4 linked regions of the Homo sapiens genome follow. The protein of the gene in region 2 purifies or fractionates together with the protein of the main gene of each other region. This does not show direct contact. Each region holds a gene or a part of one and is shown on either strand. Other genes may lie near its edges. The genes, in order: USP1, KPNA1, CHD8 and RNMT.

Evidence for each region.
Region 1: the proteins of KPNA1 (region 2) and USP1 purify together in Homo sapiens (co-immunoprecipitation; 6 studies listed by BioGRID and IntAct, with this or other methods). This does not show direct contact.
Region 3: the proteins of KPNA1 (region 2) and CHD8 purify together in Homo sapiens (affinity purification with mass spectrometry; 6 studies listed by BioGRID and IntAct, with this or other methods). This does not show direct contact.
Region 4: the proteins of KPNA1 (region 2) and RNMT purify together in Homo sapiens (co-immunoprecipitation; 5 studies listed by BioGRID and IntAct, with this or other methods). This does not show direct contact.

Annotation. Positions count from the first base shown.
Region 1 is NC_000001.11:62,440,049-62,447,073, reverse strand, and holds part of USP1 (ubiquitin carboxyl-terminal hydrolase 1), read right to left. Parts: intron 5,587-7,025; coding exon 5,466-5,586; intron 4,880-5,465; coding exon 4,775-4,879; intron 3,916-4,774; coding exon 3,755-3,915; intron 2,337-3,754; coding exon 1,645-2,336; intron 1-1,644. UniProt on the Homo sapiens protein: Negative regulator of DNA damage repair which specifically deubiquitinates monoubiquitinated FANCD2. Also involved in PCNA-mediated translesion synthesis (TLS) by deubiquitinating monoubiquitinated PCNA.
Region 2 is NC_000003.12:122,462,937-122,469,961, reverse strand, and holds part of KPNA1 (importin subunit alpha-5), read left to right. Parts: intron 1-2,532; coding exon 2,533-2,640; intron 2,641-5,920; coding exon 5,921-6,020; intron 6,021-7,025. UniProt on the Homo sapiens protein: Functions in nuclear protein import as an adapter protein for nuclear receptor KPNB1. Binds specifically and directly to substrates containing either a simple or bipartite NLS motif.
Region 3 is NC_000014.9:21,453,109-21,460,746, forward strand, and holds the start of CHD8 (chromodomain-helicase-DNA-binding protein 8), read right to left. Parts: upstream 3,016-7,638; 5' UTR 2,924-3,015; intron 1-2,923. UniProt on the Homo sapiens protein: ATP-dependent chromatin-remodeling factor, it slides nucleosomes along DNA; nucleosome sliding requires ATP. Acts as a transcription repressor by remodeling chromatin structure and recruiting histone H1 to target genes.
Region 4 is NC_000018.10:13,722,454-13,729,683, reverse strand, and holds the start of RNMT (mRNA cap guanine-N(7) methyltransferase), read right to left. Parts: upstream 3,012-7,230; 5' UTR 2,955-3,011; exon of another isoform or gene 2,819-2,954; intron 1-2,818. UniProt on the Homo sapiens protein: Catalytic subunit of the mRNA-capping methyltransferase RNMT:RAMAC complex that methylates the N7 position of the added guanosine to the 5'-cap structure of mRNAs. Binds RNA containing 5'-terminal GpppC.

The sequences.
Region 1 (7,025 bases), on a different chromosome or scaffold from region 2:
TGGGAGGCTGAGGCGGGCAGATCACCTGAGGTCGGAGTTCAAGACCAGCCTGACCAACATGGAGAAACCCTGTCTCCAGTAAAAATACAAAATTAGCCGGGTGTGGTGGTGCATGCCTGTAATCACAGCTACTCGGGAGGCTGAGGCAGGAGGATCGCTTGAACCCGGGAGGTGGAGGTTGCAGTGAGCCAAGATCATGCCATTGCACTCTAGCCTGGGCAACAAGAGCAAAACTCTGTCTCCAAAAAAATAAAAAAAATAAAAAATAAAAAAAAGTCAGTTGTATTGTAACTCCCTTCCTACAGACACCTCCCCATAGAATAAACCCAGAATAAGGATGACATTTTTGGTAAAACTATTCACTATATCAATATTACACATTTTCCCTGATATCTGTAGATCTGGACAAAACTAGGTAAAAATCTAGTTCAAGTATCGTGTAACTTACAGTTATGCACCACCTACCAACGTTTCAATTATTTAACAATGGACCGCATATGACAGTAGTCTATGATTATTTTTACTGTACCTATGTTTACATATCTATGCTTAGATACGTCTTAGATACACAAATACCATTGTGCTACAGTTGCCTACAGTATTCAGTAGTTATATGCTATACAGGTTTGTTGCCTAGGAGCAATAGGCCATGCAAAGCTTGCCTGTAGCCCGTAACAAATTCATAAACTTTCTTAAAACATTATGAGACTTTTTTGATTTTTTTTTTTTTGGCTCATCAGCTATCATTAGTGTATTCTGTGTGGTGTGGCCCAAGACACTTCTTCCAGTGTGGCCCAAGGAAGCCAAAAGATTAGATACCCTGGTCTATACCATATAGGCTAGTTGTGTAGTACGCTCTAGCATCTAGTTGTGTAAGTACACCGTGAAATTCACACAATGAAACAGCACATTTCTCAGAACATATCCCTGTTGTTAAGCAACACATGACTGTACTTAGTCTTTACTTTTAAAATTTCACTAAATGCAATGTCCTTCATCAGTTTATGTCAAACACTGCATAAAGGGAAATGTACTCTTAAATGTACATTAAAATATACTGAACTTCCCTACTTTATTATTATTTGTTTTTTTTTGAGACGGAGTCTTGCTCTGTCGCCCCAGGCTGGAGTGCAGTGGCATAATATTGGCTCACTGCAACCTCCACCTCCCGGGTTCAGGCGATTCTCCTGCCTCAGCCTCTCAAGTAGCTGGGACTACAGGCGTGCGCCACCATGCCTGGCTAATTTTTGCATTTTTAGTAGAGACGGGGTTTCACCATGTTGACCAGGCTGCTCTTGAACTCCTGACCGCAGGTGATCTGCCCGCCTAGGCCTCCCAAAGTACTGGGATTGCAGGTGCGAGCTAACATACCTGGCCGAACTTCCCTACTTTATAAGCTATAAATTAAAATTACTTTAATGACATTACACACACACACACACACATATATATGCATACAATATATACACACACACTAATCTAAGCATAGCACTTAAAACACCATAGTTCACATTCAGTGTTAAATTTCCTTCTCTTGAAACAATTTTAGCCAGAGATTATATTGTACATGTATCTAGGAAGAGAAAATTCTAATTCTGTAGCTGCTAATGCTTCTACCTATCAAAGTCTAAGAATTATACTAACCTTTGTTTATGGGTTTAACTTCATTAACATTTACAGGTGTAACAGTATTTCCTGGAGATTCAAGTCCACAACCATTAGTTGTGTTATCACTTTCACACTTCCCCAAGTCCTCTTCAGGATCACATTCATTTTCTTTAGATTGTCCTTTGACTCCTTGGTTTGTTGTTATTTTTCCCAGACTACAAAATTTAGAAAGAATGCTGGGTTGCTTAGTTGCAGACTTTAACCAATTTATTTTAACTCTTGATTTCTTTTGTGAGGGTCTTGGACTCTCATTTTCAGAAATATACTTGGGAATTATTTTAGGAGGACTCTCTAATGTATCACTTGTAGCTTTTCTTTTTGATCTAGTTTGTCTCTGGTTCTCTTCCAATGACTGGTGTTCCTTGGATAATTTAACTTTTTTCTTCATGTTACCAAATTCAGTGTCACTTTTTCTTTTCCCATTTCCTTTTGGGAGTTTCTCTTTAAAGTCTTCAGAATGCCTCATACTGTCCATCTCTATGCTGTTAATACCATTCATTTCCTCTTTCGGATGAGGTATTTCTTCTACCTTAGTAGGTAATTCTGCCACATTTTTTACTTCTTCTTTTTTTAGGAGTTGGCATGTTTCTTGAATGTTTCCCAAAATACATTGTAATACTTCCTGTGCATCATGCTGTAGATATCCTTCATACATAGGGTTGAGTTCCCTATAAATAAAAATTTCCATTTCATCTATTCTAGTTTTGAAGATACAGTACATAAAGCCTATATAGAAATTAATTCATGTAAGGAAAATCATAAATTATTTCATTTTTTAAATGTCAAGACATTTATTCAGCACTAATTTGGAATTTCTTATCTGTAACTAAAAGTAAGAGTAAATTGTACCCTATTTTCATTATAATACTTTGATCCTCTTCTAAATATATTAATAACTAATACTTAGATAATGCTTACCATACACCAGGTTTTAGTCAAAATGTTTTTTATCTCCTATGTATACATTATCTTCACAATAACCCTATGAGGTACTATTATCACCATTACTGACAGATACAAGCACTAAGGCACAGACAGGTTAAATAACTTGCCCAAGGTCACAGAACTACTTAGGATGAAAAGCCAGTATTCAAACCCGCTCTTGGCCACCACGCTACAATGGCCTTTTTTTTTTTTTTTTTTTTGGAGACAAGGGTCTTGATCTGTTGCCCAGACTGGACTGCAATGGCGCAATCTTGGCTCACTGCAACCGCCGCCTCCCGGGTTCAAGCGATTCTCCTGCCTCAGTCTCCCGAGTAGGTGGGACTACAGGTGCAAACCACCACACCCAGCTAATTTTTGTATTTTTAGTAGGGGCAGGGTTTCACCATGTTGGCCACACTGGTCTTGAACTCCTGACCTCAAATGACCCACCTACCTTCACCTCCCAAAGTGCTGGGATTACAAGTGTGAGCTGTGACCGGCCTACAATACCTCTTAACTAAGGTATAGCAATATATTGCACCTAGTTCTATTTTTAAACTAAATGCTTAAGTGATTGTTTTAAAGACTTGCCCTATAATTGTATTTGAATAAGGCTATTTTATATGTAAAGTTTCATTTTTAAGAAAATACCAAAAAGCAATCTAATCCAGTTAGCCAACAGTTCTCCTCTAATCACATATAAAAATAGAATATTTGGAATTTACAGTTCTTACACATATTTTGAATATAGTCCTATAATTCTTAATGTGAAATCCTTAGGACCACGCATTTAGAAATTCAGACATTTTCAGATTCAATGATTATATGGCATATAAGTAAAATATTTATCACCGACTTGATATGGGAGTACTCTATAACTAAACACATTACTACTTCTATAGAAGCATGTATGAATATTCACGTTAGAGATAAATATGAATGACTATAAAAAGCCTCATATAATATGTTCAGATCTAACGAATTTAGCACCAAATTTATGAAAAAAATTTCCAGTATTCAGAGTCTCTGGGATATAAAGGACTGTGGACCTAGAGTTTCTACTTTCCTTGCCCTTTATTCCTGTTTCTTCGCATGTCATTCTCCTCCAAGGATATAAACAAGTAGCTAAATTGAAACCCTAAAATTATATTATAGGCTATACCTCAGTGTGTTAAGCAGTCGCCTTGGCTGAGTGGCAAGTTCATCAGTATATTTCTCTGGATTTAAGAGAAAACTAGCCTGGAGCTGTTCAACCGAAATGATTAAGGACTGTAAACTGCATATCAATTCATAACTTGCCAAAGAATCTTCTTTGCAATTTCCCTGTCAAGAAAGAAACACACAAACCAATAATTTTATGAACAAATTAAGTACCTTCCCCCTTTGTCTTTGTCTCACTTAAGAATACTAGATTTTCTAAGTTGCATAATAGCACTAATTTTAAGGGATGTACAAATAAGCCTTATTTTTTATTTTTTTATTTTGAGACAGGGTCTCTGTCGCCCAGGCTGGAGTGCAGTGGCTTGATCGCGGCTCACTGGAGCCTCAACCTCCTGGGCTCAAGCAATCCTCCACCTCAGCCTCCCAATTAGCTGGAACTACAGGCTCACACCATGACGCCCTACTAGTTTTTGTATTTTTAGTAAAGACAGGGTCTTGCCATGTTACCCAGGCTGGTCTCAAACTCTTGCGCTCAAGCAATCCACCACCCACCTTGACCTCCCAAACTGCTGGGATTACAGGCATGAGCCACCACGTCTGGTCTTTTTTGTAATTTTAAGAGGAATTATGAATTACTATTTATGTGAATTACAATGGTTTTTTAATTATGGAAGTTAAAGATTTCTTTAAATACACTGTATTTAAATTTTAACTCAATTTGAAAACACAATGGGTAAATAAGTTGTACATGGGTATAACATATTGTGATTATAGTATACAGTAATATATAGTATACAAGTAACAAAAGTTTGATACACAGATTACAGGAGCAAACATTGTAAAAGGGAATTATCTAGTTAGCCACCTTGAAAGAATGAAAAATAATTGCCTGACAATAGCTCGCTAACAGAGAAATAATCTTTGTCATCCACCCCCCCAGTCCTCTTCATTTCCAGGCAAGTAAATTTCCATTAATTTACTTTTGCTTTTTACATTATTTTCTGTTCTTTATTTTTCTTACCTTGTCTTTTTGATTGGCTTCATCCTTTAGAGCTTCTTTCTTCCTTGAAATAATATTAAATAAGTGCTTTACTCCAGATTTAAAACCGGGACAAAAATATAATACCTATAAAAAGTGAGATTGTCTTAAGTGTTTACTGAACAAACAATACACGTAAAATCATTAAAACAACATCATGCTTTCTATAGAGCACTTTTAACATGTATTACCCTAAAATTCTGAGATTAAGTTTTGTGTCAAAATTTGTTCTCCACTTCATCAGTAGTAGCCCAGTGTCTTCCCTCATTAGCACAAAGCACTGCACCTGGGCAGATATTGCTAAGACTTTAAGGTTACAAGGACACACAACACAGCGCCAACGGACACACAACACAATGCCAACGTTACTTCCAAGGGATAAGACATATATCACACTGTAGCACCAGGAATCAGAGAAAGAAATTAAAGGTTTGACCTTCCACTTAAGGTCTACTCAATTTTGCTATCCCACCTTTATTTAGTCTATCATTTTCTCTTACCCCAAAGGAAGTTTAATAACATGTAACTTATTATTTTAGCCTATTCTGGTTTATTAACAATCAAAGGCAAAGACAGTATGGACATTAAAGTCCTCCAATAACTCAAAAACATTAAATGCTACATCAATCTTTGCCTACTAAAGCTTTATGATATAGCAAAATTGTCAATTTACCTGAAGTATACTATTAAGATAGCAAGTATTGCCGAGATTATTCAGTCCCACAAATGGTAACAAGTTTTCTCTCTTCTCACAGTTTATAGGTGAAGACTGTGCTGCAGGAACAACTTGATCACTATGAAATATAGAAGGGAGAACGATAAGTAGTTATCTTAAAGAAACAAGGTGAAAATATTACTTCTGTAGATTTAGTCTTTTCCCAAAAGTTGTATAATCTGAAAAGTATGTGAATCTTGTTCAGATGACATTTTAAGAAATACAGGCTCAAAAATTGCTATATGCCCAGAATAAAAGTTTTAAAAGCATTTAAAAACATTATTACACATAACAAGCCACAGAACAATTCCCTTAAAAGGATGTTAATCCTATTTTACAGAGTAGAAAATTGAGGAACTGAGAGACTATGATTTGTTTCATCTACTTTGACATTTTAATCAAATAGTTTAACTGAACAGAAACCTGGGAATAAACTAACCATGACAATATTTGGGAGAGGCTGCACTAAGTAAGATTCTATTAATAAGAATTCAGAGGAAAGAAAGTCTGTGAAGAGAATTATATATGACTTCCTGCTGGTAAAAAAAAAAAAAATATGTAGCTATCCCTCACTTAAAAATAAAATGTTCAGAATGTGGGTGTGGGGGCATTGACATGTAATTCCAGCTACTTGGGAGGACTGCTCGAGCCCAGGAATTCAAGACCAGCCTGGGCAACACAAGGAGACCCCATCTCAAAACACAAATGCTTTAAGTTTACTATTCTTTTACTTCTTTAACAACAACAACAAAAAAACCACTAGGTCCTTCCAATATTTTCATTTATTTTACGATTGCTAGCTATTATTACTCTAGCACCTCAAAGTATTCAGAAGTATGAATGCTGATAAACAAAAGCTTCACTCTCACAAATCTCCTCAACTGGTTATTGATAGCTATTAGGAAATTAACACATGGGACCAAATCCACCTTAGTCACCCAGCAGAGTGCCTATATGTTAAACAGGGAGTAGTACAGACTCCAGCTAGAGCTGCTGGTGGTGGAATAAAGTATTCCACTTTGTTCTGATTTATTTTCTGTAGCTAAATAATTTATTTGCATCAAAAGCATTACTTAAAGTTTATTTTTATAATTTGCAATCATATGCCTCCAACAGGTATGACTAGTTACATGACTAGAGTTTAAAATGTCTTATAACTGTCAAGTCTTCTGAACCAAACAAATATATATATATATATATATAAAACCTTTTACCCCTACACAGATGTTTTGCACTACAAATAATCAAATTTAAACTCAGAAAGACAATTTTAGTCAACAAATATTTCTCCAAGTTAGTCTAAATGGCTGAGCACAGTGTTAACATGAGTTAAACATTATCGATGTGATTCCTACGGGGAACCACCAGTTTTGCTGTTCCTACTATAAACTGCTAGATTTGACTAAGAAGTACACTGAAGCGTACTTTTTTGTGCCGCTACAGACTATCAAGTCAGACTGGAGTTGTCAACCAAGTTCACTGCTGCTTTACTGTAGAATTTTTAAAGTACAGAAATGT
Region 2 (7,025 bases):
TCTGAAAAAAATCTTTATTTTTGTTTCCACTTTTGAAGGATGATTTTGCAAGGTTCAGAGTTTCTAGGTTGGTGGTTTTCTCTCTCAACACTTCAAATATTTCACTTCACTTTCTTCTGGCATGTGTGGTTATCATTCTTATCTTTATTCATGTGTTAAGTACAGTGTTTTTACCCTTGTCTTTTAGGATTGTTTTTCCTTTATTTCTGATTTTCTGTTGTTTGAAAATGATATCCCTAGGTGTAGTGGGATTTTTTTGGCCTTTGTCCAGCTTGGTGTTCTCTGGGCTTCCAGTGGTTTTGTTCCCAGACCAAACTGGGTTGGGCTGCTGTTTCTCATGGCCCAATAACAAGATGCAGATGAACTGGGGAGGAAGAGAGTTTTTATTTTTGTACCTGGTTACAGGGAGAAGGCCTAGAAATTATTGCCAGACCAACTCGAAATTACAAAGTTTTCCAGATATTATATACCTTTTAAGCTATATGTCTGCGTGTAAGTGTGTATTCATCTAAAGACATAAGTGATGAAACTTCTTTTAATCTGTAACTAAGGTCTGAGTCTTGAAGACCTTCCTCTGGAGTCTCAGTAAATTTACTTAATCTAGGTGCTGAGGTGATTACCCTTATCTTGTCTCCTGCTCGTGGAGGTTTGGGGAGTTCTTTCAGACATCCAATAAACTTGTTTGTGGAGGCCTGGGGAATTTCTTTGTTATGCTTTAAGGCCCAGGAAAGGCCTAGGCAAAACTCTTGGTGGGCTTTTGTTAGATTCCAGCCTTTGTATAAGGGCACTGGCTTTTTTTAGCTTTTAATATTTAACTTAACCAGTCAGTCAGTACTGAAACAGTTGTTATGGAGCCCTGCATTAATGAGACATGGCCTGCTACAGTTTGGTGTCTGATACTAATTTGGGGGAAATTCTCAGTCATTATTGTGTCAAATATTTCTTTTGTTCTTTCCTCTCCTCCTGATAGTTCCATTCCATGTTTATTATACCATTTGTAGTTGTTTCAGTTCATAGATACTCTGTTCTATTTGTGTCAGTCCTTTTTCTGTTTTCTTTTCAGTTTTAAAGATTTCGAATGAGATTTCCTTAAGCTCAGAGATTATTTCCTTAGCTGTGTCTTGTTTACTAAAAAGTCGATCAAAGGCATTCTTCATTTCTGTTGTTGTTGATCTCTTGCATTTCTTTTTAGTTCTTTTTTAGAATTTCCATCTCTCTCCTTACATTGCCTATCTGTTCTTGTATGCTGTCCACTTTATCCATTTAAAGCCCTTAGCATATTAATCGTAGTTTTAAATTCTTGGTCCGATAATCTCAACATCACTGCCGTGGCTGAATCTGGTTCTGATACTTGCTCTGTCTCTTCAAAATGTGTTTTTTATATTTTAGTATGCCTTGTAATTTTTTCTTGATAGCTGGACATGTACTGGGTAAAAGAAACTACTGTTAAATAGGCCTTTGGTAGGTGGTTTTGGTATTAAGAGTAATGCTGATCTCCTAGAATGAGTTGAGAAGTACTGTCTCTGCTTCTGTCTTCTGAAAGAATATGATTATGTGCTGATTAGTATTAAGTTAAATCTCAGAGAGAACCTCCTGTAGATCTTGGGTGTTCTTTTTGTGTTGTACTCTGCGTTATGAATTTTAGGTCTCTTGGCCTTCTCAGCTCTGAACTGTGTTTTCTCAAATCCAAGGAGCATCTAAACTCTGGTTGAGTTTACCTTTCCTGCACTGCAGCCTGGAACTGTCTGCATAGTAATCTGAGGCAGTATTGGGGCTTATCTTGGGTTTTTCTTTCTGAGATATCACTACTCTGTGGTTTTTATTGTCCAATGGCTGAAACATTATTTTATGTATTTTGTCTGTTTTTAGTTGTTCAGCGTGAGAGAGGGTAAGTTACTGTTACTCCATCATGGCTTGATGAATAAATGTGCTGCCCAGGATTCATAAGGATATAATGGTAATCACCCTCGTTGGCTGACTTTGGAGAGAACTAGTCTCCTTTGCCTATACACATTAACGGAGCTGCTTTAAAGGTAGTGCTTAAGCAGTCATCATTTGTTGCCACTGGTTGCTGGATAGGTTGGGAAGGTCAGAAGCCACAGTCCACCATCTTTGGAGATTAGGAGGGAAGTATTAAGTCATTTGAACATAGTTTTTATTTTCATTTTCCTTGGTACATTGTTAGGACTGTCCTGATGTATACTTTACATAAAGGGATGAGGAAAATGGCCAAGCATGACCCAGCTCCTTTTTCCAACCTTTTTTTTTTTAATGTCATATAGTGTCAGACCTCTCTTAGTAAGTTTTACATTATCAAGTGTTGTTTATAGCATGTTGTAATAGTTAATTATATTTGATTATAAGACTATGGAGAAATCTGAAATGGTTACTCATCAGTAAAAGCTGACAGCTTTAGAATTTTAAAAATGATTTTCAAAGACTTCACTTTGAATGGGGTGCCTAGTATTTGAATGTTGAACTCCCTTGTGTTAGAATTTACATTTACATTGCTACCAATCTTTTATCTTTCAGTTATTCAAGCGGAGAAATGTTGCTACAGCAGAAGAAGAAACAGAAGAAGAAGTTATGTCAGATGGAGGCTTTCATGAGGCTCAGATTAGTAACATGGAGATGGCACCAGTAAGATAATGAACTCTTTTCAGTGTTTTTGTGATGAAGATATGAGATGTAGATTTCCTTTTGAGTTTTAAAAAAGGTTAGATGGCTACAAAAAGTACTTGGCATTTCATTTTTAAAAAGAATATGCTTAATCTCATGGTTCATTAAATGTTTATTATATTTTGGATAAAGTGCAGTTAAATTATAAAGATTAATTCTGCTCTAAAAACTTAACAAGCTAATTATAAGATAAAATTACTCTTTAAAAGTTGAATAAGAATAGACACCTTATTTATTTATTTATTTATTTATTTATTTATTTATTTATTTATTTATGTTTTAGAGACAGGGTCTTGCTGTGTTGCCCAGGTTGGAGTGCAGTGGCGCAATCGTAGGTCACTGCAACCTCGAACTCCTGGGCTTAAGTGATCCTCCTGCTTTAGCCTCCCAAATAGCTGGGACTACAGGCATGTGCCACCATGACTGGCAAATTTTTAAATTTTTTGTGGAGACAGGATCTCACTGTGTTGCCCAGGTGAACTCCTGGCCTCAAGTGATCCTTTTGCCTTGGCCTCCCAAAGTGCTAGAATTACAAGCTTGAGCCATCACACCAAGCCATAAGAGATACTTTAAAGAAAATAATGATTTTTTATTGATTTACAAAATTGACCTGTTTGTATGATTTAAAAACTTGATTCCACATCAGAACTCTTGGATTTTTCTGTTGTAAACCATTTTGTTACTTTTTTGAAGTTAACATGAAGAGATAAAAGTCATGCTTTATTTGTATGGATTAGACCTATCTAGATTTCTAGAGTATTGTAATTACGTAATTTTAAAAATAGGTTATATATGTGTACATATATATATATGTGTACACACACACAGTTTTTTTAAAAAGAAAATTATCTCCTAAAAGGTACTGTTGTTTGTAGTAACAAAAAAAGTACAATTAAAAAAAATGAAGAAAAATCTTTCTTCCGCTTAGCCACCTAGTATTTTTCTCCATTGGCAACTAGTATTACTAAATTCCTATTTATTCTTTCTGAGAACTTTTGTATATTAAAATGTTCTCCTCTCCCCCACCTTTTTTTTTGGTAAATGGTGGCATACTATTCATAGTATTTTGTAGTTTTTATTTTTATTTCATTTCATAGATCTCCAGTTTACATGAACCAGCTTTCTTTGAGAGTTGGGAGGGTAGTATTATTTCCTTTGGAATTCATACAGACATAGCCAATGCCATCATTTTGTGATGAAAGTTTCTAGGCCCTTCAGAAAGCCAGTCTTTCCAATTTTTTTAAGAAGAGAGTGTTAAGTGAATATAAAGTGTTTTATGGATTGTATTAGGGTTCTCCAGAGAAACAGAACCAATGAGAGAAAGAAATTTAGTTTAAGAAAGTGGCTCGTGTCTTTGGGAGCTGGCAAGTGTGAAATCTGTAGGGCACACTGGCCCACTATAAATTCAGGTTAAGAGTTGATGTTGTTGAATCCCTTTTCTTCAGAAAACCTAGTCTTTGCTTTTAAGGGTTTCAACTGATTGGATGAGGCCAACTTGGACTACAGGCGTGCGCCACTACCCCCAGCTAATTTTTTTGTAGTTTTAGTAGAGACAGGGTTTCACCATATTGGCCAGGTTGGTCTTGAACTCCTGACCTCGTGATCCACCCGCCTTGGCTTCCCAAAGTGTTGGGATTACAGGCGTGAGCCACCGCACCCAGCCAGATTACAACTTTCCTTTGTGCAACTAAAAATGTATGGATGGTTCTTGACTTAGGAGGGTTCAAGTCAGGATTTTTCAACTTTACAGTGGTGTGAAAGCAATATGCAATCAGTAGGAACTGTATTTTGAATACCCATACAGTCACTCTGTTTCTCATTTTCAGTACAGTATTAAGTAAATTACACGAGATAGTCAACCACTTTATTATAAAATAGGCTTTGTGTTAGATCATTTGTTCAGCTGTAGGCTAATGTATGTGTTCTGAGCATGTTTAAGGTAGGCTAGGCTAGGCAATGAAGTTTGGTAGGTTAGGTGTATTAAGTGTACTTTTTACTTAATATTTTCAACTTATGATGGGATTAGTGGGGCATAACCCCATTCATTGTAAGTTGAGGCACATCTTTACTAACTCCTTCTGCGGAAGAGGATGCAAAATCTTTGGGTGATGTTCACTCCTGTCCTTGATAGCCTGTGACTTAAATATTATAATGTAAAGTTAACAATACTTAAATAGTGTAATGTAAAGTCAGTACAGCTTGCTATAAGAGGATGAGAGAGGGAAGAAAAAGATATTTGCTTAATGTGTGTATATATATATATGAATGTGTTTATGCAAACATATTCATAACAAATCATATAGAAACCTTGATTTAGGAATCAGTCTTGCAATTTTGAAAATAGTTACTTTTCTGATTCTTGAGTAGAATGCGTCATATATTCCCCTATGAGGATTCTTAGGTATTGCTTACCAGTCATCTAGCATTTACAGCTTAGTGCAGCTTTCTTCACAATTCATCTTGTTGACTGCTACCCTTCATGAAATAAGAACTTTGTTTCTTTCTGACAAATGACCCTGAGAAGAAAATTAACTGCTAATACTGGGGATGAGTTATGGTGGGAAATGGAAACATTCTAATAAAGCAAGAAGGTAGTGGGAAACTGGAAAGTTTTAATAAAACAAGAAAGAAATTTTAAATAAGTTTAAGAGTCAGCTGTTGAATTTGGCAGTGGCTGGATTTATACAGGACCACTCTATTTACTCACTCAATAAGTATTGCAGAGCATTTACAGTACACCAGCCCTTAGTGATAGAGTAAGACAGACAGGGTCTTGGGCTTACAAGGAAGTTACAGTATACTGGAGGAACACAGAAAAATATCTGGGAGTGTAATAAGGGCTGGGGCATACGATTGAAATATGGTGCTGTGATAGAGATAAAGTGGCTACTTTAGGCTTGGAGGTCTTGAAAAGCCATCTTTTAAAACTTAACATTTAATTTTGATAAGAAAGAATAGCCAGCTATGTGATGAGCAAGGAGGGGAAGAGCAATAAGCTCCTTGTCTTATTTACTAGTAAGATCACTTTCTACTGTGAGCTTTTTAATGATAGACAAAGAATTTGGCTTCATTATATTATTAATAATCTTACACGTTTCTATATGTAAAGATTGTCCTACCTTTATGTAACTTCTGGGGAAGTATGATTAACTTAATAACTTGGCCATGATATCTGTTATCTTTCTTTCCTTTGAATTAAGGGTGATAATTTATTATATGTTCTTTTTGTTTGTGATCGCAGGGTGGTGTCATCACTTCTGACATGATTGAAATGATATTTTCCAAAAGCCCAGAGCAACAGCTTTCAGCAACACAGAAATTCAGGAAGCTGCTTTCAAAAGGTGAGCTATGAATATGTTCAGTATATTTTTTCATCTCTCTACAAAATTACTTTCCCATAGTCTGTTTTTCATACCACAGGTAATTTGTGTTGGAGTATTTTTATCAATAAAAGAATAAAAATACAGACATATATGTAATTGTGAACCATGCCTAAATTTTAAGTTTCCTATTTATTTGTGGGATCTCACCAGGATCAGAAAACAGAATTATTTTCATTTTTGGGTTATTTTATAAAAGACTTTATAGTGAATAGTAGTCAGTATCATGTTAATTCAAATTGAGAGACTGACTTTTTTTTATAGAGTGACTTTAAAAATACTCCTTGAAAGAGTTATGATTGTTGATTTTAATGTTAGCAATTTACCACTGAAAGTTAGGAATGCATTTACTGGTGGGCAGGGTGATTACCTTTTTTTTTTTTTTTAAAGACGGCTCTGTTGCCAGTCTGGAGTGCAGGCTGGGCGCGATCTTGGCTCACTGCAACCTCCGACTCCCTGGTTCAAGCGATTTTCCTGCCTCAGTCTCCCGAGTAGCTGGGATTACAGTTACACGCCACCACCCCCAGCTAATTTTTGTATTTTTTTTTTTTTTTTGAGATGGAGTCTCACTCTGTCGCCCAGGCTGGAGTACAGTGGCGCTATCTCGGCTCACTGCAAGCGCCGCCTCCCGGGTTCACGCCATTCTCCTGCCTCAGCCTCCCAAGTAGTTGGGACTACAGGCGCTCGCCACCGTGCCCAGCTAATTTTTTGTATTTTTAGTAGAGACGGTGTTTCACTGTGTTAGCCAGGATCTCGATCTCCTGACCTTGTGATCCTCCTGCCTCGGCCTCCCAAAGTGCTGGGATTACAGGCGTGAGCCACTGCGCCCGGCCTTTTTTGTATTTTTAGTAGAGATAGGATTTCACCATGTTGGCCAGGATGATCTCGATATCCTATCATGATCCGTCTGCCTCTGCCTCCCAAAATACTGGGATTACAGGCATGAGCCACCGCACCCGGCTGGTA
Region 3 (7,638 bases), on a different chromosome or scaffold from region 2:
GACCAGCTGGGGCAAGATGGCAAGACCCCGTCTCTTAAGAAAGAAAGAAAGACAACTCTCATTTGGGTGCTAGGTACCAAAGAAAGACCACATCTTGAAAATTAGATACCCTAAAAGGTTTCAATTTTCACGAGGTCAGGAGTTAAAGACCAGCCTGGCCAATATGGTGAAACCCCGTCTCTACTAAAAATACAGAAATTACATTCCCTAAAAGGTTTCAGCTAAACAGAAGCAAAAGTGTACAACGTCAGTGAATTAAGTGAAAAGGAAAGTGAGCAAAATCACAGGAAGATGAAAAGATCACCAACTTGGTGAGACAAAAGAATAAAAGATCATAGATCATGTAAGAGGGGATATAAAAAGTTAAAGTGAGATAAGAAACATGATAGTCTGTCAATGAATCAAATGCTAAAGGTAAAATAGTAAATATTATACCACAATGGTCACAGTAATGTAAGGACAGGTCATGCGAAGACCTGCAGATCAAGGACTGGCTCAAATCCAACTCCAGAAGTAGAGAGATTCTAGAGGTGAAAGTGGAGACTCGAGAGAAATGTTTGTCTTCTGTTTTCCTCCCAAGTATTAGGCTCAATGTAAGCTCAGAAGATAGCTTAACTCTTCCAGAGCTGTAGACAAACAGTTCACTAAAGCATTTAGCATTCATCTGAATGTTACAGTCCTTTCACATATGAGAATATCAAATCTTATTTCTTCAGTAAGCAAACACAGTTTTGACACCCACAACTTAATCTTAAGTGGTAATTTTGCTTAGAAAAGTGGCTCATGCCTGTAATCCCAGCACTTCGGGAGGCCGAGGCGGGAGGATCACGAGGTCAGAAGTTCAAGACCAGCCTAGCCAATATGGTGAAACCCCGTCTCTACTAAAAATAAAAAAAAAAATTAGCCAAGCATGGTGGCGGGCGCCTGTAATCCCAGCTACTCGGAAGGCTCAGGCAGGAGAATTACTTGAACCTGGGAGGCGGAGGTTGCAGTGAGCCGAGATCCTGCCACTGCACTCCAGCCTGGGTGACAGAGCAAGACTCCGTCTCAAAAAAAAAGAAAAGAAAAGAAAAGAAAAGAAAAGAAAAGAAAAGAAAAGAAAAGAAAAGAAAACTGACAAAACCAAAAGAGCAGATGCACAGGACAGATCAAACATGGAGAATACAAAAACTGTTCAAGTACTCATACACTGTTCCATTATATCCCTTATCCCAATCCATTACTCCTTTGCTATCCTCTGGCTGTGTCGCCCAGGCCGGAATGCAGGGGCACGATCTTGGCTCACTGCAATCTCCACCTCCAGGGTTCAAGCGATTTTCATGCCTTGGCCTCCCATGTAGCTGGGACTACAGGCACGCGTCACCATGCCCGGCTAATTTTTTTTTGTATTTTTTGTACTTTTAGAGACGGGGTTTCACCATGTTGGTCAGGCTGGTCTCGAACTCCTGACTTCAAGTGATCCGTCCGCCTCCACCTCCCAAAGTGCTGAGATTACAAGCGTGAGCCACTATTTCAGTTTTAAACTTTCTCCTAAGCCTGTCTCTTCAAACTTGCCTACTCTCTCTTTGGCCAATATCTTTCACTTGCCTTCAGATCCACTGACACGCCTCTCTTGCAGCAGAAGGTCTTCTTACATGGAAAATGTTTTTCTTATCATAACTCTTTTTTTAAGGGTTGGGATAATTCCAAAGTACTTGAAATAAGTTTCTCATATCTTGCTCTATGAGGTTGACTAGAATTTGTTCTGAAACCTATTGGATGACCAATACAAAAGAAATTCCTAAGCAGAAGACACGATCTAATTAACTAACACAGGACACGATTCAAATCACAAACTCACTTTCGATATGTAATGTGCCCCACACCAGATGACTTCAGCATATGCTAACCTAGGCTGAGAATCCTTGACTGAGTCGACAAACTCAGAAAAGCATGGAGATGAAACGATCTGTAGACGCCGCTGTGATGGTAGGATGCAGCAGACACTGATAAGGCAGCTCCCCTGGCTTGTGTTTGGGGCGCTCCGCTGTTTATTCTTTAATAGAAAAAGACAGAGTTCTAAATCTTTGACTTCTGGCTCACTTTGCTTAGCCATACGAAAGAGATGGGTCCACTATATACCTTTTCTGTGAAGACCCTAACCGCTTCAAGACTGTCCCTTAAAAAGCAAGAGGCTGCTGCATTTATACAGCTGCTGCAGGGAAATTCCCTGCGACACTAGAGACAGGTAAATAAACTGCATTCGTTCCAAAGCAGGGGGAAGGGTCTTCTATCAGTGACGAGTTTACATAATGCAACGGAAAACCAGTGAGCTCTGCAGACCTGTCAAGGAGGATGCAAGGCTTGAGCTCCTCTCTTCCCACCATCTCTAAACATTCTCCAACAGCCTGCTCTTCACTGCCAGGAGACCCACAGAACTTACACCTGAGAATGAGTAACAATCTGCTTACGCTTACCCCATGCTTTCCTACCCACCTTTATTATTAAAATACAGAAGAAAAAAAAATAAAAAGAAGTAGAAAACCCTAACCACCTATTTCTGAATCCAAAGTATGGAGTAACCAAACGGGGCCGAGGAGTTTTCCCTTCTCTGAAGAGAGGAGAACAAGGCGCCGCCTCCAATCTACACTACGCCCAGTAATGCAATGACAAGCCCTGAAAACTCCACAGCGTCCCAAGCAGTCCCTCGCGGCTCGGCCCGGCTCGGACCCCGCGGCCCGGCAGCCACCCTCTCCCCCGGCCTCTCACAAAGGAGACTGGTTCAGTCCGGAGCATCACCCCGCACCTGATCCCTCACAACTGGGGGGCGAGCAGGGGGTGGAAGAGAGAGGAGAAGGAGTTACTTAAATCAAATCTCTGAGAGCCTCAGCTTTTGCTGACTCCTGGCCCAGCACTGAGGAGCGGGTGCGAGCGGGAAGCCTACCTGTGCAAGTCCTGGTACTTCCTTTCCAGGCAGCGTTTCAACTCACCCTCTCCGAGAACAAGGCGCCTTCCGGCGGAGCATGGCCAGCCCTCGCCTCAATCTAGCTTGCTAGTAGTCCATTCTCCCTAGGCTCCGCCCCCCTGCGCTCCCATCCGCCAATGGCAGCACCGAAGCCCGGCCTCTTCCAGCGAGCTAGTGTGAGCGCCATCCAGGAAGTCTCTTGAGGGTGGAAGGTCCTAGGAGGATGAGAAGGGTACGTAGGCGACCACAAATATGCCTGATTGAAAATAAAATCTGGCGGCGGCTCGCCTCTGACGACTCAGTTCACAGGCGGCCAGGCCCCTCGGCATCTTTTTTTGACCCCCGCCATTGGGGGCGCTGTGAACTAAAACAACACTTAGTTACCTACTTCTGGGAAGCCATCTTGGCTCGGACTCCGGGACTGGGTGAGAGTGCTTAAAGAATGTGAAGACCCTGTCGGTGTTCTGTCCGACTATCTAGGTCCAGCCCGAACATACTCTGCTGTATACACTTAGGAGGCCCCTCAGTCACGACGTGAAACCCTGGAGTAATGCCGTATGTGGTTACGGGCAACAACCACCACCACCCTCTCACTTAACTGTAGGAGTAAAGCAATTTTAACAAATCAAATAAGCAAAAATTAATTCTTCTAATGAGAGTGAAAGTTGCACTTTCCTAGGGTAATCCTTTATGGACACCTCACTCAAAATATCAGGACATGTATCTATTATAGGTGCTACTAAGCTTTAGGATTCACTGCAAATTTTCCAGTAGGGGCACTGTGAATCAGTTGGAAATCAAGAACAGGACTTAAGGAGGAATTCCTTTTTTTTTTTAAAGGCCTAATTTTTTTTTTTTTTTTTGAGATGGAGTCTCGCTCGGTCACCCAGGCTGGAGTGCAGTGGGGCGATCTCGGCTCACTGCAACCTCTGCCTCCCGGGTTCAAGCAATTCTCCTGTCTCAGCTTCCTGAGTAGCTGAGACTACAGGCTCCCGCCACCACGCCCAGCTAATTTTTGTATTTTTAGTAGAGACGGGGTTTCGCCATGTTGGTCAGGCTGGTTTCGAACTCCAGACCTCAAGTGATCCGCCCACCTCGGCCTCCCAAAGTGCTGGGATTACAGACATGAGCCACCATTCCTGGCCAAGAAATCTTTTTTAAAGTTGTGAGTGAGGGAATCCTTCCAGATTATTAAAGGAATTTCTCAAGGAGTAACATAATTGCATGGTCTTACATGATAGGAGCTCAGAGACATCAAGAAGTCATATGAGTGATAAGACTCGGCCTTAAGCTGGGCGCAGTGGCTCACGCCTGTAATCCCAGCACTTTGGGAGGCTGAGGCGGGTGGATCGCCTGAGGTCAGGAGTTCGAGAGCAGCCTGGCCAACATAGTGAAACCCCGTCTCTAGTAAAGATACAAAAAAAAATTAGCCGGGCGTGGTGGCAGACACCCATAATCCCAGCTACTCGGGAGGCTGAGGCAGGAGAATCGCTTGAACCCAGGAGGCGGAGGTTGTGGTGAGCCAAGATCTCACCACTGCACTCCAGCCTGGGCAACAAGAGCGAAATTCCATCTCAAAAAAAAAAAAAAAAAAAAAAAAAAAAAAAAAAAGACTTGGCCAAATACATTTCCCTGTGTATCAAAATCTGTCAGCCAAGACAGGCGCGGTAGCTCACGCCTGTAATCCCAGCACTTTGGGAGGCCGAGGCGGGTGGATCACCTAAGGTCCGGAGTTCAAGACCAGCCTGACCAACATGGAGAAACCCCGTCTCTACTAAAAATACAAAAGTAGCTGGGTGTGGTGGTGCATGCCTGTAACCCCAGCTACTCAGGAGGCTGAGGCAGGAAAATCACTTGAACTCGGGAGGCGGAGGTTGTGGTGAGCCTAGATCATGCCATTGCACTCCAGCCTGGGCAACAAGCGGGAAACTCTGTCTCAAAAAAAAAAAAAAAAAAAATCTGTCAACCAAATTCTCTCCTGGCTACTGCTGCCATTATATCAATTTGATGTTAGTATTAAGATTTATCAGAACAATGTGTTTGTCTGTAAATGCATATACAGATATAACCTTAATTATTAATAGTTTCTAGGATGAGAGCCTATTATCCATCTGGTACAGAATAGACCTGTCATCAAAGGAGCTATAGATATTATGGAAATGGGAACAGGTGTGCCTGAACCAATTTCTGGTACCTACACTGATCTTAGTATGATTTCCAATGGTCTTGGCCTTCAAAAACCAATGGACATTGGTAAGACTATAGATGGAAAAAAAAAAAAAGTGGACATTATTTCATAACTACCATTCTTCATATGGGGTGGCATATCCACTTTTTATAATTCTTCATGACCACTTCACTCAGAATACAGATGATTTTGCCCAGATACTTTTTTTTCTCATGCTTCCCTTACAATTGGTGCAATACCCAAGTACAGAAGGTCATAAGTCGGCTTGGTTAATAGAACAAGATATGGGCATTAATATTAAAAAACTGTGCTCCAAAATATCAAAATGGTATCCTTTATTGACTCTGAAAGCAGTAGCTCTAGGCAGAATGCTGTCTTTGACCAATCCTCTAATGCTTCTCAATTGCTAAAGATTGTTTTTTTGGGTAGTAAAAAAAAAAAAAACAAAAAAAAAACCTTCTGTACAGAAACTAGTTTTTATTACTTTAGTTTTCGCCCAGAGGTAAGGGGGCAGGCTAACTCCAAGTTCAACAGCTTCAAATCCTTTTTGGAATCAGATAGGATTTTAAAAACAAAACAAAAGCATAACCAAAGCAATACCCCAAATGTCTTCCAACTTCCTGTGGTGCACTGTCAACTATTACTACTACTACTGGGGTCAGAATCGAGTATAGCATGAATCCCAAAGAGGCTTCTTCATTATCTTTGATTTAATTCCCTGAGAGGAGAGTATCTACTAATGTTTGGGATACAATTAGAAATGACACATGGAGTATGAATAGCTTTGATACATGCATATATTTAATAATGAAACAATTCATCAACAGCAAAAAGAAAGTAGAAAAATTCGTAAGACCTCAGGGCTGTGGAAGAGAACGGGACATCAAGGAAAAAAGATATATATAGCAACCAACCCAGAAGGCTGCATGATGAGTGAAGCAAAGGCAAGTTTGGCTAAGATAGTATTATATGCTCTGAAAAGAGAATGGCTGGATAGGTACCCACTTATGTGACTGCTTACTAGCAGGCAGCCTTACTGTATGCCTCATGGAATGGAGGCAAAAAGCCAGGGAAAGGTGGGAGGGGAGAAGGAAGAGAACTGTATAAAACCCAGGGTAAACAAATGAGTGGGGCAGAATTACAGAGAGAGGACTCTAAAGTCTTTTGTTTCCTTGAAAGTCTAAAATAAACCTTAAGTTTTTAACTATGTCAGTCAAATTCAATGAACACATAATGAGTAGCACTAGGCACTGTAAAGGAATGATAGGGGGAATAATTTATAAAAATAAAGGAATGACATGGATCCTGCTCTCAAGGAGCTTACAACTTATACGGAAAGACAAGATTCCACACAAAAACAACTGCAAACCATATTTACATAGTAACATACATAAAAATAAATATACATATAAATAGACATATGAATAACCAACATATGAAAACTAAGGAATATTGTGTTAATAACTGCTTAGCAGTACCTAAGTCTGTTACTAAAGAAAAAATTTTTGGACTTTTAAGTATAATTAGTGGAGAGTAGGGCATGTGCAAAGGTATGGAACTAGGAATAAATATGTCACATTCAGTAAGTAGATTAGCCTGATTGGAGTAGAAAGTCTAGGTCTAGTTAAGAAGGGAGTTTGATGAAACAGTAGAAGTCTATCTGGTGAAAGACACTACAATGTTAGATCTGGCCCCTAAAATAAAATGAACAGGGAACAAATGTTTTCTTTAGGTAATAATAAGTGGCCACATGTCCCTGACCAACTTCACTGCTCTTAAAAGTTTTGAAGTTACACTAAGAGATAGAAGCTAATAATAGGATAGTAGAGAAGTACTCAGTGCTCTTGGGCAAGTAGAGGAAACTGCCTTCTACAAGAATTCTTAGGAAGTGGCAAGCAGACACCCAAAGGCAAGGAAGAAAAAAACTCAATGAAATTCCGAGGCAGAGGATCTATCAACCAAAGGCCAACTAGATCTAGGTAATTGCAAGTGTTCAAATAGAATGTCTTTGACCCTAATTCTTAGTGGGAAGTGGATTGTATATGCTTACGAAATTATTTATTTAGGCCAGGCACGGTGGCTCACACCTGTAATCCAGCACTTTGGGAGGCCAAGGTGGGCGGATCACGAGGTCAAGAGATCAAGACCATCCTGGCCAACATGGTGAAACCCTGTCTCTACTAAAAATACAAAAATGAGCCAGGTGTGGTGGCACATGCCTGTAGTCCCAGCTACTCGGGAGGTTGAGGCAGGAGAACTGCTTGAACCTGGAAAGTGGAGGTTGCAGTGAGCCAAGATCATGCCACTGCACTCCAGCCTGGAGACAGAGTGAGACTCCATCCCCCCAAAAAAAAAAAAAAAAAAAGAAAAAAAAAATTATTTATTTATTTGAGACAGAGTTTTGCTCTTGTTGCCCAGGCTGCAGTGCAATGGCGTGATCTTGGCTTAGCGTAACCTTCACCTCCTGGGTTCAAGCGATTCTCCTGCCTTGGCCTCCCGAGTACCT
Region 4 (7,230 bases), on a different chromosome or scaffold from region 2:
GAATGGGTAAGGGTTTCAATGGTTATTAGTTTTCATGACCCACCATTTGAGGTAACAAAATACCAAGAAGTACCAAATAGAACTGAATCAGAGAACAACAACAACAAATCAGAAAAGTGATTTTCAGAACAAATACTTAAAATGATTATCTAGAAAAACTGGATACCAACTTATCAAATTCCTATTTCTCCTCCTCTGCCATTGATTTCCTAATGGAAATTGGCTTTAAATTCAAATAAAGAAATGTGACTTATCTTTAGCTATATTTATTACCTAAAATTAATATTGAGATTTAAGCATGAATTTTACTTATGTCACTTTCATGATATCACAGATGTGACATAATAAAAACATAATTAGGTCAGAAGAAATGACACAGCATTCCAGATGACCACAAAAATAAGTAAGAACGTTTAAAACCAAGCATCATGTTTACAGCCAACTTGTTCTCAACAAAGGTGCCAAGAACGTACATAGTGAAAAGACAGTCTCTTCAAAAAACGGTGCTGGGAAATCTAGACCACTCTCTCTCACCATATGCAAAAATCAAATCAAAATGGACTGAAAAATTTAATACCCAAAAGTATGAAACTACTTGAAGAAAACATTGTGGAAATGCTTCAAGACACTGGTCTGGGCAAAGATTTTTGTGGTAAGACCTCAAAAGCACAGGCAACAAAAGCAAAAACAGACAAATGGGATTACATCAAGCTAAAAAACTTCTGCACAGCAAAGGAAACAAGAGTGAAGAGATAACCTAGAGAATGGGAGAAAATATCTGCAAAACCATTCATCTGACGGGATTCACAACCGGAATACAGAAGAAACTCAACTCAATAGCAAAAAAAAAGAAGCAATCCTACTACAAATGGGCAAAAGATCTGAATAGACATTTCTTAAAAGACACACAAATGGCCAACAGGTATATACGTAAAAAATGCTCAATATCAGTAATATCAGGGAAATGCAAGTCAAAACCACAATGAGATACCATCTCATCTCGGTTAAAACGGCTTTTATCAAAAAGATTTTTAAAAAATGGATGCTGAGGCCGTCACGGTGGCTCACACCTGTAATCCCAGCACTTTGGGAGGTGGAGGTGGGCAGATCACTTGAGGTCAGGAGTTCTAGACCAGCCTGGCCAACATAGTGAAACCCCGTCTCTACCAAAAACACAAAAATCAGCCGGGCATGGTGATGTGCGCCTGTAATCCCAGCTACTCGGGAGGCTGAGGCATGAGAATCGCTTGAACCCGGGAGGTGGAGGTTGCAGTGAGCTGAGATCAAGCCACTGCACTCCGGCCTGGGCGACAGAGCAAGGCTCCGTCACACACACACACACACACACACACAAAAAAAAAAAAAAAAAAAAAAAAAAAAAAAGATGCTGATGAGGATGCAGGATGCAGAAAAGGGGGAACACTTGTACACTGTTAGGGAGAACGTAAATTAGCACAGCCACTAATTTACATACTGGGAAAAGTATGATGGAGGTTCTTCAAAAAACAAAAAATAGAACTAGTGCTATTGAGATGAGTTTCTTCTATATTCTGGTTGTTAATCCCCTGTCCGATGAACAGTTTTGCAAATCTGGGTACAGATCCAAAAGAAGGGAAATCAGTATATCTAAGAAATATCTGCAGTCTCAAGTTTATTCACAATAGTCAAGATATGGAATCAACCTAAGCGTTCATCAACAGATGAATAAAGATAATGTAGCATATATACACAATGGAATATTAGTCATTAAAAAGAATGAAATCCTGTCATTTGCAACAACATGGATGAAACCGGATGTCATTATGTTAACTGAAATAAGCCAGGCACATGAAGACAATATCATGTTGTTACTCATGTGGGAGCTAAAAATGTGGACCTGATGGAGGTAAAGAGTGGATTGGTGGTTACCACAGACTGGGAAGGGTAGCAGGAAGAGGAGCGGGATGAAGAAGAGAAATTGGTTAATGGGTACAAAAAACCCCAGAAGAAATAAAATCTAGTGCCTGATAGTACAGTGGGGTGGACACAGTTAACAATAACTTATTGTGTAGTTCAAAATAGCTAAAAGAAAAATTGGAATGTTCCCAACATAAAGATAAATGTTTGAGATGACAAATATCCCAATTGCCCTGATTTAGTCGTTACACATTGTATGCATGTATCAAAGTATCACCTGCACCTGCAAATATGTGCAACTTCTATGTATCAATTTAACAAATTGGGGGAAAAAAAACCCAAACCAAACTCAAAGTGGAATAATGAAAACACTCCATAGGGAAGAGAGCTGTCCCTCAGAATCTTCAAGAAACCTTCGAAAGGTGGTCGACTGACATGGAGATGGACACGCGATAAATAACCACACGAACATTTCGACCCGGCTTTCCAGTCACACCTCCGAAGCAAGCTATGTCTCTGCGTCATTTCAGCTCCTCAGGGTACGAGCGAGCAGGCCGCCAGGGCCGCCGGGATAAAGCCCAAGCGGGATAAGCTCTAAGTCCCGACCCGCCCGCTTGACCCTCTACCACGGGGCCCGAGAGGACGCACAGAGGCGAGAAGGGACTTCTCCAGCCAAGTTCACCCCCTCCGTCATTAGCGCGGCCTGTTACTCAACCTCTGGTTCAGGTTTCCGAAGCGCCGCTGAAGACAAACCTGCGGACCCCACGCCCCTCCCCAGCACGGCCCTGGGGCGCGAGCTGGAGCAGCTCTTCGAGCTGCTTCTCCCACCCGGGCTCGCCCAGTCTGGAGGAGGAACAGCGCCCGCCCACCCCAAGGAGTTCCCATTTTCCTTGGGACTGAGGACACAAGGCAATAGACCCACGCGTTGGGTAGTGAAGCACAGGGCTAATGCGAAGTGAGCCCATGTCAGGGGTGGGAGTGCCAGTTCCACCCCTCCACGGCGGCCGAGGGACAAACACAAAGAAAGGAAGGGCCGGAGTTCCAGCCGTCACACTCACCAGCACAGCCAAACGCGATTCTGTTTGCGGAAACGGCGGCCCGCGCCACGCGTGTCTGCTTACGTCACTTCCGGAGGTGCGAGAGTCACGTGGAGACGGTCAGGCGAGAGTGCCGCGACGCACGTCCTCCGCGCCGGAACTACGAGTCCCGACGTGCCGCGCGCGGCATGCAGAAGCTTCACTGAGCGGGCACTGGAGGTCGCGAGCACGTTGCTAGTGGGCGCGGCTGGCGGGGCCGGGGGCGGCAGGGGGCTAGCGTCCGGCTGAGCCCGGCGGGTTCCTGCACGCGGACCCACGCTTTGTCGGGCTGCTCTGCTGAGTGACACCGCCGTGGCATCCGAGGAGCTGTGGTCCAGCCTGCGCGGCGGGAAGCGGCGGCGGCGGCTCCAGCGTCCTAAGAGGTAGCATGGGCCCAGGCCTCTGTGGGGCAGCGGGAGGGGTCTAGAGGGCACCTTCAACCCTGGGCGTGTGTCCGGGAGCTGACTCGCGGCGCGAACCCGGCAACTGCTCCGCGTGCGCCGCTCTTCGGGCTGTGGCAGTGTACGACTGCCAGACGGGTCGTCCACACTCGCCGACCCCACAGACCCCGGCGGCCGAGAGAGGTCCCCCCGCCCTTCCGGGTCGAGCCAGTGTCCTGGCAAATCTTGCTTTGGGACTGTTTTTCAGCCTCCTTTGCTGTAACCCTTCACCGTGTTCTCCCCCCTTCTTCCGAAGCCAGTTGAAGAGGGGCCCGGAAGCGCCCGCGTTCGGAATGGTTTTTAAAATTAGCAATTTCTTATTAGGGACTGGCAGACTGGTCCTTACCGCCGTGTTTGGGAAGCCACAAGAGGCCATTCTTACCTGTTAGATTCTGAGAAAAGGGACCGCCTATACCTCTTCTTGACAAATACCTAAGGATGCATTAGTCTGCGTTGGCTGAACTTGGCATGGTGTGGTTTGGGGGAGACAACACACTTTTTTTGGCCATCACCCCAGATTTCTACTGGGGAGTGAAAGCGCCTACTGTACTGAAACTCGAAAGCTCCATAGTTGAGGACTTTCAACCTGAGATCAGGGTCAAAACTACCTGTGGATAGATTATTGAAGCGTGTGCATATTAACGTCGTGCGTCAAGTCCCCACCTTCCAAGGTTGTAAAACTGATCAGATTTACAATCCGTCTTGAATTACTCTTTACCAAAATTGATCCATTTAAAACAGCTTTGAAAATGTGCTTTACCAGCCTTCCTTCTTGTCAGTAGGCACAGGTATATTAATGAATAGACCTGGCTTTGGGGAAGGCAGCATTTGCAGCGTTGTGCTTTCCAATCTAATCACTTCTAAATTGTGGGCATTAGCCCATTTGAGGTTACAAACTTTGAACCAAGAATGAGGCCTATTTTTCACAAATAAGGATGACCCATCAATTTCTGATGACTGCTTGTATTTGTTATTATATGAAATGAGGTAAGTTGAGAATTAATCTCATTACATGAATATTGACAACTGCAAAAGTGTAGGTCTTACAGATCGAATGCATTATAGGCATATACAAGCATTAGAACCAGGCAATTACATTCCCTGTTCCTGATGCTTAAGTTTCTTGAGATAATTGCTGTTGTAATTTTACAGAAAATGAGTGTAATTTTGACTTTTAAAAACATGTTTTAATGTTTTTAAACACCGGGTGCAGTGGCTCACTTCTGTAATCCCAGCCGTTGGGAGGCCGAGGCGGTTGGATCACGAGGTCAGGAGTTTGAGACCAGCCTGGCCAACATGGTGAAACCCCGTCTCTACTAAAAATACAAAAATTAGCCAGGCGTGGTGGCGCGTGCCTGTAATCCCAGCTACTCAGGAGGCTGAGGCAGGAGAATCGCTTAAACCCGGAAGGCGGAGGTTGCAGTGAGCCGAGATTGCGCCGTTGCACTCTAGCCTGGGCGACAGAGCGAGACTGTCTCAAAAAAAACTAAACAAAACAAAAAAAGTTATTAGATTAAAAGCCTCTTAACTATGTGTTTATGAAAACTCCACGATGATGGGATATATAGAGATTACATTTTTCAGTTTTTATAAAACTTAACTAGAAGTTGTGTAAATTCATTTGAGAATAGAGGGGAAGGATTCTTGAAAGCAGTTAATGTAAGTAAATGAGCCAGATAAAAATGATTTTAAAGTTACCATTGGTGTTATTTTTCCCTCATTATTGCCTGAGTAATCTCTGGTTTTCTGGACATTAAAATAATAATAGCTAATACTCGAGTACCTTTTAGGTGCCAAGGTTAGTGCTTTATTCATTTGCACTCGTTTAATTCTAACCGAACCCAGTGGTATAGTTATGAGTGTTTGTTTTACAGATGAGGGTTAAGTAACTTGGCCAAGATCATGCAGCTTGTTAAGTAGTGGGATCAAGATTTGGACCCAGGCAGTCTGGCTGATTGACCAGACTCTGCTAATAATGAAACAGTGCTGGCTAGAAGATCATACTCAGAACTGGACGTTGCCTAGCAAATAGTAGATTTTTCAGAAAGTGTTTTGATACTTCTTAATGCCTGGGTTATGATGTCCCGAGAGAAAATAGTTAGATAAGGATGTTATCTTGCTGGAATGTGAGCTCCACCAAGACAAGGAAAGGACCTGCAGGATTTATTTCAACCCATTTGTAAGAAAGTGAGAGTACTTCTCTCAGAGGTATAATTTTAAAGTGTGATTTCTGTTGTAGAGTTGAAGATCATATTTTTGAAACATAGAGATTGTTTTAAAAATGTAGAAACAATGTTATAGTTTCCTAAGATAGTGTTCTGTGAAGAGAGGTGGTTCATGGAAGCTTTGTTCCTCCAAATAGTTTTGGATGAAGGACTTTTCCTCTGTTCCACTCAGGAAAGTGTTCCTACTGAAATTTCATTGTCTTTCTGGAACAAATAAAATATTATTGTTTAAAAGGTTTTTCCTTCAGTTGAAAATAAGATTTTGTTGAGTAATACTGTGTGTGATGATTAGTTTTATTATGTCAGCTTAGCTAGGCTATAATACCTAGTTATTTAATCAGATACTAGTTTGGTTGATGCTATGATGGTATTCTGAAGACGTGGTTAACATCTATAATCAGTTGACCTAAACTAAAGGATATTACCCTAAATAATGTGGGTGGACCTCATTCAATCAATTGAAGGCTAAAAAAGCCAAAACTGAAGTGTCCTGAAGAAGACAGTATTTTCCTCAAGACTGCAGCATCAATTCCTGCCTAAGTTTCCTGTCTGTAGATCTACCCTACACATTTTGAAGTTGCTATCCCCTACAGTTGTGTGAGCCAGTTCCTTAAAATACCAATATCTCTGTATCTGTCTATATGTAGATGAAGATATTTATGTTTTTATCTACATCTATATATTTTTTCCTATCAGTTCTGTATCTCTGTAGAGCCCTGACTGATTCAAATTTGGGTGCTGAGAGTGCTTCTAGTGAGCAGAATCTTAAGGATGAGTTTTCTGAATTGATTATAGTGTTTCTGGAATTGGTTTTCCAAACTGATCAGATTCAAAGGCAGTAATGAGTATTCCCTGTAGAAAAGAGGGCACTGATAGTCCCTGGTGTGATATGGCAACAAAGATATGCAAAAGATCACTATTAGATACTCCCACTCATGCTTATAGACAAGATTCAGAATGATCAGGTATTTGATACCTTAGAACATTTTAATCGAATTAATGAGTACAATAAGATAGGCTGGTTGCTTTTAACTGTACTGGGTAAAGTGAGAAAAGAAAAGGATGATCCCAGCTACTCAGGAGGCTGAGGCAGGAGAATCGCTTGAACCCAGGAGGCGGAGGTTGCAGTGAGCCGAGATTGCACCACTGCACTCCAACCTGAGTGACAGAGTGAGACTGTCTCAAAAAAAAAAAAAAGAAAGGAAAGAAAAGGGGAGCTTAAGGCTTCAAATTCCCGATTGAAGCTCCACATAAGTGACCTGAAAAGTTTCTGTGTCTGCCCTAAAGAAACCCGTATCTCTTGTAGCTACAGAGCTGAGGTTGGTGAAAACCAAATCCAGAGTCTTATCCTGTAGGTGGCTGAATTACAGTGCTAACTGAATTCCCTTCTCACCTTGGTCTGCTATTAAAATGAGGGCATTGATTGGGAAGGAATGGGATCTGCACATTTGGAATAGGGCCATATGGGAACATCCTGATGAAGCTGGGGATGTTAAACTCCTAAATTTGACTCACTCTTTTTTGCCAGTAGAAGCAGTTCTTCCACCTCTGAGGAGGTTAACTCTGCTTTGCCTGAAGAACCTGTAATGACCT